Linked DNA regions of Homo sapiens: region 1 is linked to region 2. A link means that fine-mapping ties the variant in region 2 to the expression of a gene that starts in the linked region. Tissue or cell type: whole blood. Region 2 holds a variant in brackets; the other region holds the start of a gene. All regions are shown on one strand. Distances are from middle to middle.

Region 1 (5,388 bases), 250 kb after region 2:
AACACCTTCTAGGAAGGACTTAACAGCTCAGCTCCTAAAGAGGAGTTTAAGGTGTCTGGCTGTTTCACCTCCACGTGAAGATAGAGGGAAAAAAAAAATCTGTGCCAAGATTGACGCAGGCAAAATATTCTACCTGATCCTCGCTTCACGGGCAAAGCCTTTTCTCAACAGTTAACTGGCAACAATTCAAGGTAATTTAAATATAAAACCCCTTCCATTTCTGTGTGTAATTACCAACAATTACAAGAAAAGTTTTAAGAAAGCAAGTGTTTTCCACAACAAGAAATATTATTTGAATTCAGAGTACTATTTTTCACTCACTTTCCATTCTCCACAGTATAATAATTTTAATTTGAAAATTACTTTCCTGGTTTACATGCACTTAAAGAAATTGTCAGTTGTTATAAATCCTTTATGCAAAAGTCAAATAAGGAACTTGATTCCTCGCCAGATCATCACATTGCAGTACTCTACAATTTCCAGAAGTAGTACTTCTGGAAATAGGTTTAAGGAAAAATATATATTCGTGTGTGAGCACAGGTTTACACAAACACAAAGTCCTTTCCAGGTGACAAGAGACCGCTAATCATCTTGCAGCTGTAAGAAATCAAGCTGAAATTGATTTCAAAGCCCACTCAGCTGAGAAACTCACCTCTGCAGGAGGAGACCATAGTAAAGCACACCAATAATAGGAAATTAGCTGTTCCTTCCATGTATAACACAGAGAGAATATATATGCAATTTTATTAATTGGCCCTGTTTGGATATATCAGGCCTTTCAAAATATGTTAAGAGACATAATAAATTTTATCTTTTAACATATTTTGAAAGGCCTTTCAAAATATGTTAAGACACATAATAAATTTTATCTTTTAAAGCTACATCTACTAGTCACAGATAGGTCACAGCTTGACCACACAAGTGCAATGAAAACAGTGCTCACTTCATTCCTGAGGACTACTTTAACTCCATTAATCCCCAGGAGATAGGATCTATGAATATAAATTTGAATTCTTATATTAAATCTGCCGGATTTACACTCTCCATCTTAGAGACAGCATGGAATAGTGAAAAAGTACGAGTTCTGCACTCAGAAATAGCCACATGCAATTTCTAAATTCACCACTGACCTTGTACAAATTACTGGACTCCTCTCTGCCTCAGTTCCTTATCTGCACAGGGGAATAGTATCTACTTTGTAGATTTCATAGACAAGACAAAGTGCCTAGCATGGTGCTTGGCACAGAGCTAATTCTTAATAATCTTATTTTAAGCATGGTTTTGACAATTTTTATTGCTTTGGAATGACTGATCAGGCTAATGACAGAGACTCTTCAAAGATTTACATTCTCCCTGCATTTAAATACTTATAACCAGCGATTACACAGGTGCTGCTGAGGCAAAGCGCAGCACCATTGGTCTCGTTCTAAACACCCACCTGTGAGGAATAAGTGCCTTAAGATTCCCCTTTGTATTAATATCAACACCTGTGCTACCCAACAGCACACCAGCCCGGCTCTCAGAGGTCTGCCCGTTAACAGGTGTACAATAAATATTTGTTGAATTGAAATGCTACTGACTCAAGCAAAAAATGAATGCTAATGTAAATTATAATCCATACAAATCCTTCAATAAGTGGTGTCTGAATTCTGTGCGTCCTGAAGCAAGTGTTCTAACGTCTCACGGTTCACTGAGAAGCTGCTTGGTACCTTAAGGGTTCGCACCCTTGTACCTTCCAGACCAAGCTCTTGTAAGCATCTAGAGGAGGCTGAAACCCTCAGTCAGCATCGCACAGAAGTTCATTCAGACTAGAGAAAACCTCTTTTATGGCAACCCAATCATTTAAAAAAAGCCGTCAGCACATTTGCTTAACAAATGGACAGTGCAGGAGGGAACTAATTGCGGAAACTAATCGCCACTCAAGTTCACCACCAACATCACTGTCTTTATTTTTAACTTACTTATCTTCAGTGGGATTGAGACACTGTTTGTTACCTACGCAATTATCCCAAGGATTTCTGCTCCGGTGTCGTTGAGCAAATGTCAGCGCAAAGAATTAAAGTTGAACCTCCGGGTCTCTACGAAGAGAGCGTATTAAAGCCCACCCAGCTGAGGAACTGACCTCTGTGGAAGGAGTCCTGGATGTGGCGGTGACTACCTCCGTAGCGCCCCGGGGAGACTGAATGTGTGGCCTTTAAAATGCAAAGAAATTCTGGGCCAGGCTGCCCTCCCCTAGTGCGCCTTCCAGTACGCCACGCCTGGATTTCTGCCTCCAGTCCTCAGGACACCTTTCTGATCTCTGAACCACAAGCAGCTCCGGGGTAGTAGCGCCACTGAATTCTCATCCTGGACCCTCCAGCTCCCCAACTCCCAGCTTCGGTTGAGAGAAGACGCCCACCCCCAGGCGGCGACCGTGCTGCCCGGCCCACGCGCGCTGCCAGGTGAACCCGGCACCGCCCTCACCTGTGCGAGGCCGCGTTCGGGGGCTGCAAAGCTGGGCAGGCGCGCGCCCCTCACCTGCACCGGACCCGCTGCAGTCGCCACTCGGAAGCGCAGGGAGCAACCCTGACGCGGCGGGGGCGGGGGCATCACCGAGGGCCCCCGGACTTCCTCGGGCCCCCCCACCGCCCTTGCGAGCCCCGCCTAAAGGGGAGGAGGCGGCCGCGCGTCACCTTTGAGCAGCCTCCGACCCAAGCGCCCGCGCTGCCGCCGGGAGCTCGGCCGGGTGTTGCAAGGAGGCGCTATGCTTGGTGCTGGGCACTGGCTGGGCGTAGAGAAGGCGATTACTTGTAACTCATTCGTTTGGGTTGGCTCACAGGAAAAGGAAGGTGTGTCCAAAAAGTCCGAAGTGAGGAAATAGGACGAGGATGGCTTGCAAACTCGTAAAGTCTTAATAAGCTGTCTTCGCTGATACTCAGAAGGGTTCTCTTCGCTCCTGTAGGTCCCTAATAGATTCATGGGAAGACAGCAGCCTCCCTTTGTAACGCCCTGACCCTGGGAAGAGGTACCCGAGCCAGACAGCCTATTAACCTATGCCACGTGTGCGCGACTGTGGGTGGAAGATGCCCGCCCAGATCCACAGAACTGTTTCCTGAGCCTTGGTGCCTCATCTATGAGATAAGGCCGGCGTACTGCTCAGCAAGCCGTCCCGAGTACTCGGCAGAGAACCCTAAAGACCCTCCCGTGCGATTGTTGGCACTCAGCGAATATTTGCTATTTATTTCCCCTTTCCCTTACTTTCTTTTTCTACTTTTTTTTACGCCGCTTTCCTGCTGTAATTGTCTTATTGCACTTTGTTTGCTCGGTTTCACTGCCTGGTCAGTTTCTTTTCCCGTCTATGAACGAGCCTAAGTCTGTGCGCTCTAGGAATTTGGGTGGATTAGGAAAAGAAATGTATGATCCATGCCTTCTGGGAGATCAGGGACTCATCTCTGGGAAATAGCATTTTTAAATTAGATACAAGAGAGTTACAGAAAATAACCTTAAAACGGGAATGGGACCTCTGGGAATAGGCGAGCTCTGAAATGAAGCGTTTAGTTGGTGTCACTGGTGATTAAGAGCTCCGGCTTTGGAGTCAGACCTCAAATCAAATTCTGCCTGGGCAACTAATTGTGTAAATGGACGAGTTCACTTAACCTCTCTAAATTTTAACTTCAACAAACTGGTTGTTTAAATAGCTTAAAATAGCTTAAATAGCTTAAAATAATAGCTATCTCATACTTTCTGAGAAATTAATTAGGTAATTCACATAAAATCCTCATTACAGTGTCCTGGGCCATGGTAACCACTTAATAAAAGTTAGCTATTAACAATACTAAGGTAGGAAATGGGAGGAAGGGGCATAAAAATTTAGAAAACATGAGGACGTGATAGAAAACAGCTGCCACTGTCATGCAATTCCGACTTACAACAATAGCTACCACTGAGGAACACAACTTCGCACCAGTTTCTGTGATTGGCATGTAACACGTGATCATATTGAATTTTCACAAACCAGGAGACAGTTAATAAAATCTCTGATTCAAGATGAGGAAAATGAGCATCAGAACCATGAAATAACCTGCCTGAAGCTATGAGTCAAGTTAGTAGCCGAGTCAGAGCAAGCTGAGGCCTATGGCAAAATTGGCTTTTCCCACCGTGCCGAAGGTTACATCCCCTAGCAGAGAACAGAGAGAGGTAAGGGTAAAACAGCATGAAAGGAAGAAGAGAAAGAGCAGTAGGCAGACGAAGCAATCATACCTTTAAAGCTGACTAAGAATACAAATGAATTAAAATAGTAAGTGAACCCACACAAAAGCTTTTTTGCCTTTAACTCCTGCCCCAGTGGAGTTCCTGTTCTGTGGTTCCGGCAGTCCAACCGCATTTTTCAATCATTAAATGGTATAGAAAGTGAAACAACTAAAGATACAGAAATCTAAGGTCACAACTTGCCCTTCCCACCACAATACACTCATCTGCCCAGCTTCCTGGGTTTTTTGTTTTTAATTGTTCAAACATATTACCTGTCTCCTTTTCTATGTTCCACCCAGGAAATGTCCCTTCCAGGGAATAATATTGTTGCTTATACCAATTTAACTTTACTACATAACCACACCAGCATTTAGAATGGCAACTGGACTCATACATGTAGCTGATAAATTTTTAACACACTTTTGTTATATTGAATTTCTCTAAACAGATTTTGAACCAGGTCTTACATTATAGGCACTGGTCAGTGATGTCATAATTATACTTAAAAAAAAATAAAATCTCCTGCACGTATCATAGGCAGCTTTCTCTCTCTTCTGAGCAACCAGATATTTGGCCTCTGAAGAAATGCCCCTATTGTCAATGTGATAATTGAGGTGGAGATTTCCCACTTTCAGATACAATTGCTTTTATATCTTAGACAATGTATGTTTGGTTGCATGACAATCTAATATTGGCACCTCTTCTTTTAAATTGTAAATGGAAGATGTGTCTTCTGAAGGCCCAGTGTACTCCTTGGCTATCATGGCTATACTGCCTGTCATACATGCAGAAGCACGGTTAAGTGCATACAAAGGCTAGATAACAATTAGTGCAGTTATCTAGCCACGTCCCTGTGCCTTTTTGAATGAGCCAGAGTATTTCAAATGAAACAAATGAAAATTGCTGTAGCCACCCAGAGTCTTTGACAATGAGGGTTAAAGCAGTCTTCTCTAAAGAAGACAAGACCCTGTCTGTAAATGCATAGGATCTAGAGTTCCATATCTTCTCTGCTCAGTGGGAGCCTCCTTGGGTCATCCTATCAGAGTTGGCCATGCAGTCAACACAGTCTGGCTCCATTTGGAGGACACAGAGCTAATCTTGCTGGGACAAGTCCCTTTATGTCAAAGAGAAAGCTGTCTGAGATCTGCTAGCAGTAAT
Region 2 (5,388 bases):
GCTGATGAGAAGAATGTGTATTCTGTGGCTGTTGTGTAAAATGTCCTGTAAATGTCTGTTAGGTGTGTTTGTTCAAACATGCGGTTTAAATTCACTGTTTCTTTGTTAGTTTCCTGTCTAGATGATCTGTCTAAAGCTGTAAGTGTGGTGTTAAAATCCTGAACTATTTTTGTATTGGAATGTATCTCTCCCTTTAGATCTAATAATATTTACTTTATATATCTGGGTGCTCCGGTGTTGGGTATATATAATTAGTTAGAATTGTTATTTCCTTTTGCTGAATTGATTCCTTGATCTTTATGTAATGACCTTCTTTGTCTCCTTTAATAAATTTGGATTTAAAGTCTGTTTTATCTAATATAAGTATAGGCACTCCTTTGGTTCTGGTTTCTGTTTACATGGAATGCAATGTCTTTTTCTATCCCTTTACTTTCAGTCTGTATGTGTCTTTACAGTTGAGATAGATTTCTTTTTTTTTTTTTTTGCCTGTATAATCAGGTCTTTATTCAAAAGAAGCTGTCCATGATGATTTGACCTTTATGGAATAATCAAATTTAAGAGTTTATGCAGCAGGCTTCTTTTCCTCTGTAGTAAGTTTCTTTTCTGCAGGCTTCTTATTTCTTATAGGCAGCATATAATTGGTCATTTTAAAAATACATTCTGCCAGTCTATATCCTGTAAGTGTAAAGTTTAATCTATTTACATTCAAAGATATTACTGATATGTGAGGGCTTATTCCTGTTATTTATTAATTGATTACTGGTTGTTTGGTATATCATTTGTTCCTTTCTTTCTCCATTAATGTTTATTATTGTGGGTTGATAGTTGTCTGTAGTGGTAATATTTGTGTCCTTTCTCTTCTTTATTTTTGTGTTTGTGCTACCATTTAGTTCTGTACTTTCATGTGTTTTCATGATTGTAGATGGTGTCTCTTTCCTCCCAGGTAGGACTCCCTTAAGCATTTCTTGCCAGGCCAGTCTAGGGTGATGATTTCTCTCAGCTTTTGCTTAGCTTGGAAAGATGATGATGACGATGATGATGATTATTATTATTTTCAGCACTTTGAATATATCATCTCATTCTCTCCTGGACTGTTAAATTTCTGAGGAGAAATTCAATGTTAGTTTGATGAGGGTTCCCTTATGAGGCACTTGATGCTTTTCTCTTGCTGTTTTTAAGAGTACTCTCTTGATCTTCCACTTACTACAATTTGATTATAATGTGCTGAGGAGAAGACCTTTTTGCATTGTGTTTTGGAATCTCTAAACGTTCTGTATCTGAATGTCTAAATCTCTTCCTAGACTTAGGGTGTTTTCAGCTATTATTTCAATAAATAGGTTTTCTAACTTTTTTATTTTCCCTTTGTCTTGTGGAACACCAAAAAATTTGATCACTATAAGGTATCTCATATGTCACGTAGGCTTTGCTCAATTTTTTTTTATTTTTGTCTGTGTTATTTTAAAAGACGTGTCTTCAAGTTTTGAAATTCTTCTTGATCTAGTCTATTGTTGAGCTATTGAAAGTATTTTGTATTTTACTTAATAAATCATTCAGTTCCAGAATTTGTTTTGTTCTTTATGACATCTATCTCTAGAAAATTTCTCATTCATATACTAACTTGTTTTTCTGATTTATTTGTATTGTTTTTCTGTATTCTCTTGGATCTAACTGAGCTTCTTAATATTGGTATTTTGAATTCTTTATCCAGGATTTCATAGATTTCTTCTTTTGGTTAATCTGTTGCTGGGATTTTATGTCCCTTTGGAAGTACTATCTTTGCTTTTTTTTTTTTTTTTTTTTTTTCATGTTTCTTGTGTCCTTACACTGATATCTGAACATCTGTCATGACAATCACTTCTTTCCATTTTTTAACTTGCTTTCCTAGGGCAGGGCTTTTTCCTGAAGATGTGTCTGTGGTGTTTGTTGGGTATGGTACTTTGGCTTTGATTCTGGGTGTATGCAGTAGTGTAGCTCTCATGATTTCTTTGGCTCTAAATAGCTTCACTGGTGTCTGTGATTTTCGTCAGTGGCCTAGGTTGTGGTTATTAGGGAAGGCTGTGGTGAACTTTTGCTTGTGAAAAGGACACCAGATGGGCCTGTCCTTGGGCCCTAGGACAGTGTATGCTGGCACTGTGCTAGCAGACCCAAGCCAGCCAATTCTTGGGCCTCCAGGCAGCTTGTTTGGGTGATGATAGTGGCAGTCGTGGGCTGGTGGTAAGTGTGTCCTTGGGCACTTGGGCAGTTGGCATGGCATGGGTGAAGCAGTAGTAGTGGTAGGACTAACCTCTGAGTCCCAAGAGCTCCACAGTGGTGTTGGCAGTGGTTGTGACAGGCTGGGCAGGCCAGTCCCCAGGCCCACAGGTGACACGTGTATGTGTGTGTGTGTGTGTGTGTGTGCTCA[T/C]TGTGATGGTAGTGGCAGGTTGGGTGGCCCCAACTTCAGGGCCCTTGTTGGAGTGCTCAGGTGCCAATATTGGTGGACTGGGCTGAGTACTCCCCAGGCCTCCAGATGCCATGATTTGATACTAGGGGGTGGGGGTCAGAGCTAGGTCCAGTGGACTCATCCTCACATCCTTCAGTAGTGCTTGCAGACACTGACTATGGAAGGCAGGGGCGGTGTGACCCCAGGCCCCAGAATGTTCATGTTGGGGTGGCAGCAGCTGTACTGCACCCCTGGTACAGGGGAGAATAGAGTCACTTTCAATGGCAGCAGTGGCACACAAGTGCCTGGGAAGTGTACATTTCACTTGCCTTTGGCCCCAGTTGAGGCAGCCCACTGCTATGGCTGTCACCTGGTGGATTTGTTGTCCTTAGGGTGATTAAAAGCTGCACAGCAGCTTCACAGTTGGGAGCAGTGTGGTAGCTGCCAACAGCTCACACTTAAGCCCTACAGGTAGCAGGCAGCTGGAGTTGTGGCTGCAGGTGAAGCATGTCATTGGGGTTCCAGGGATATGAAGATGCAGGGGCTGTAGGGCCCAGGACAGAATGCAGTCTGGTGAGGGCTGAGATATCCAAGTGACAACTTGCTGTAGCTGCTTAGGACTTGGGGGTGTGTGGGATTATGTGTGCTCCCTCTCTGGGGCAGTATCGTCACACGGTCTTCAGGTAGCTCCCTATGTTGGTCTGGGGGCTCACAATAGTCTAGGGGCATTCCTATGGCTGGAATGTGGGAGTCTGTAGTGGGAACGTTGATCACTAGGAGTCACCCACTTACTCTTTTCTCATACTGGGAAGCCTTTCCTGGCTCCTAGCCTATCCCACCTGAACAGACTGTATTGCTTTCTTTCCCTTCCTTGCTTTAGGTGTTTCCTGTCACTTATCTGTAGAATTCCAGCATTCTCTCTTATATATGTGAACTGTGATTATCTACTCATTATTGTCTGGTCAAGTATCTGGAAGCCTCACTGATGTTTTCAGTGTAAAGACTTCTGTATATCTTTCACAATTTTGTATCTTCATAAGGGATTTTCTTAAGTAGTTTTCCATTCTGGTAGAACTTAGTTGGTTTTGAAGGAGAGTTATGTTGGCCTCATAAAATGCTTAAGAAAGTGGTTTTTTTTCTTTTGTTATTGTCTAGAAGAGTTTGTATAAGAGCGACAGGTTTTTTTTTTTTCCTATAAGTATTTGGAGAAATTTCAGTTTTTAGAATTATTTTGAATGAGCAATTATATCTAAAACACTTAGAAAGTAACTGGCATTTGATAAATGCCATAAAATATTAGTATTCTTGTGTGCTTGAATATCCATTTTCCTGTGTAAATCATTACATAAATGCTAGGACAGAACAGCTGTGGGCTTTACACAGAGGTAACATGCTTGAAGCCATTCCTTTAGAAGTCACCCTTCAGGATTTCAGCATTTATTCAATTATCAGTTACTACTCAATGCATTTTCAGGCAATTTTTATTTTAATTTTTCAACTGTTCCGTTGTCACAAGATTCCTAATACATAAATGAGAGGCAGGTTTTGATAGAACATAGTTTTTTTTAAAGTTCAGGGGTAACTGTGCAGGTTTGTTACATAGGTAAACTGTGTCAGAGAGGCTTGTCATACAGATTATTTCATCGCCCATGTATTAAGCCTGGTACTCATTATTTTTCCTGATCCTCTTCCTCCTTTCACCCTTCACCCTCCAATAGCCCCCAGTGTATTTTGTTCCCTTCTACATGTCCATGTGTTCTCATCATTTAACTCCTACCTATAAATGAGAACATGTGGTATTTGGTTTTCTGTTGCTGCATTAGTTTGCTAAGGATAATGGCCTCCAGCTGTATCCAAGTTCCTGCAAAAGGACATGATCTCATTCTTTTTTATGGCTGCATAGTATTCCATGGTGTACCTCTACCACATTTTCTTTATCCATTCTATCAATGATGGGCATTTAGACTGATCCAGTGTCTTTGCTATTGTAAATAGTGTTGCAGTGAACATGTGTGTGCATGTGTTTTTATAGTAGAACAATTTATATTCCTTTGGGTACATACCCAGTTATGGGATTGCTGGGTCAAATGGTATTTCTGTCTTTAGGTTTTTGAGGAAACACCCACCCTGTCTTCCACAGCGGTTGAACTAATTTACACTCCAACCAACAATGTATAAGTGCAGAACATAGTTTTCAATAATGAATATGGCTAACTCCATCTCAAGCCCATGAAGAATTTTTTGCAGCTAATAGGGTTACACTGAGGTCATGACACCTCTGTTTTCTTACTAAAATAATCCCAAATATCTCCTTTCATTCCAAATTCCAGCCCTCTCTCTCTCCTTTCTTCTCCACAGTGGAATTTTTCAAGGGTTACCTCCATTCAGAGGCCCCATATTTTCACATCCACTCACTTCTCAACCCAGCGTGGTTTCCATTTCTACCATTCCACTGAAATGGCTTGTTGCCAGGGTGCTTCCAAACTGTCAAACCATTAAGGTCATGATTCTGTACTTATGTGATCTCAGCGGCATTTGATATTATTGACCACATCAGCTTTCTTGCAGTATGCTCTGCCACTGAATTCTAGGACAGTCCATGCTTACTGTTTTTCTCCTCTGTATTTACCCGTTTCTATTTACACTCTTAACTGACTTGCCTTTCTATATATGACATTAACTGTTGAGTTCTTCAAGGTTTAATTTCTTGAAGCATGTAGTTTTGATCACTTTTCATATACAATGTTTGCCTTTAACTTGTGTACATCTCAAGTACAGTGTGTTACTTCTCTGAGAACTATATATTCCATTACCTTGCTGACATTCCTATTTGGATGCTTTTCAGTCACCTGAGATTCAGCGCTAAAACTGGACTCCTGTGGTCCTCTCACAGCAGTTCTTACAGTTCTCTCCCTTAGTGAAAGGTAACACCATCTTCCTAGACCTGGAGACCTAGGGACTGAGAGCCA

What was found. PIP is the estimated chance that this variant, and not a neighbour inherited with it, causes the effect.
Region 1: it holds the start of MCTP2, and the variant in region 2 is fine-mapped to the expression of MCTP2 in whole blood (TOPMed, PIP 0.96).

What each region holds. Positions count from the first base shown.
Region 1 is chr15:94,228,740-94,234,127 of GRCh38, reverse strand. It overlaps MCTP2 (multiple C2 and transmembrane domain containing 2), which reads right to left and starts at 2,567. Exons shown (of 23, transcript NM_001385001.1): 1 at 2,464-2,567. RefSeq lists a silencer at 2,508-2,637 and an enhancer at 4,173-4,312.
Region 2 is chr15:94,482,447-94,487,834 of GRCh38, reverse strand. MCTP2 (multiple C2 and transmembrane domain containing 2) reads right to left here. Exons shown (of 23, transcript NM_001385001.1): 23 at 3,883-5,388. Among named protein-coding and RNA genes, the nearest start is that of LINC02852, 100 kb to the left of the region's middle. The variant T/C (reference allele first, on the strand shown) is at 2,402.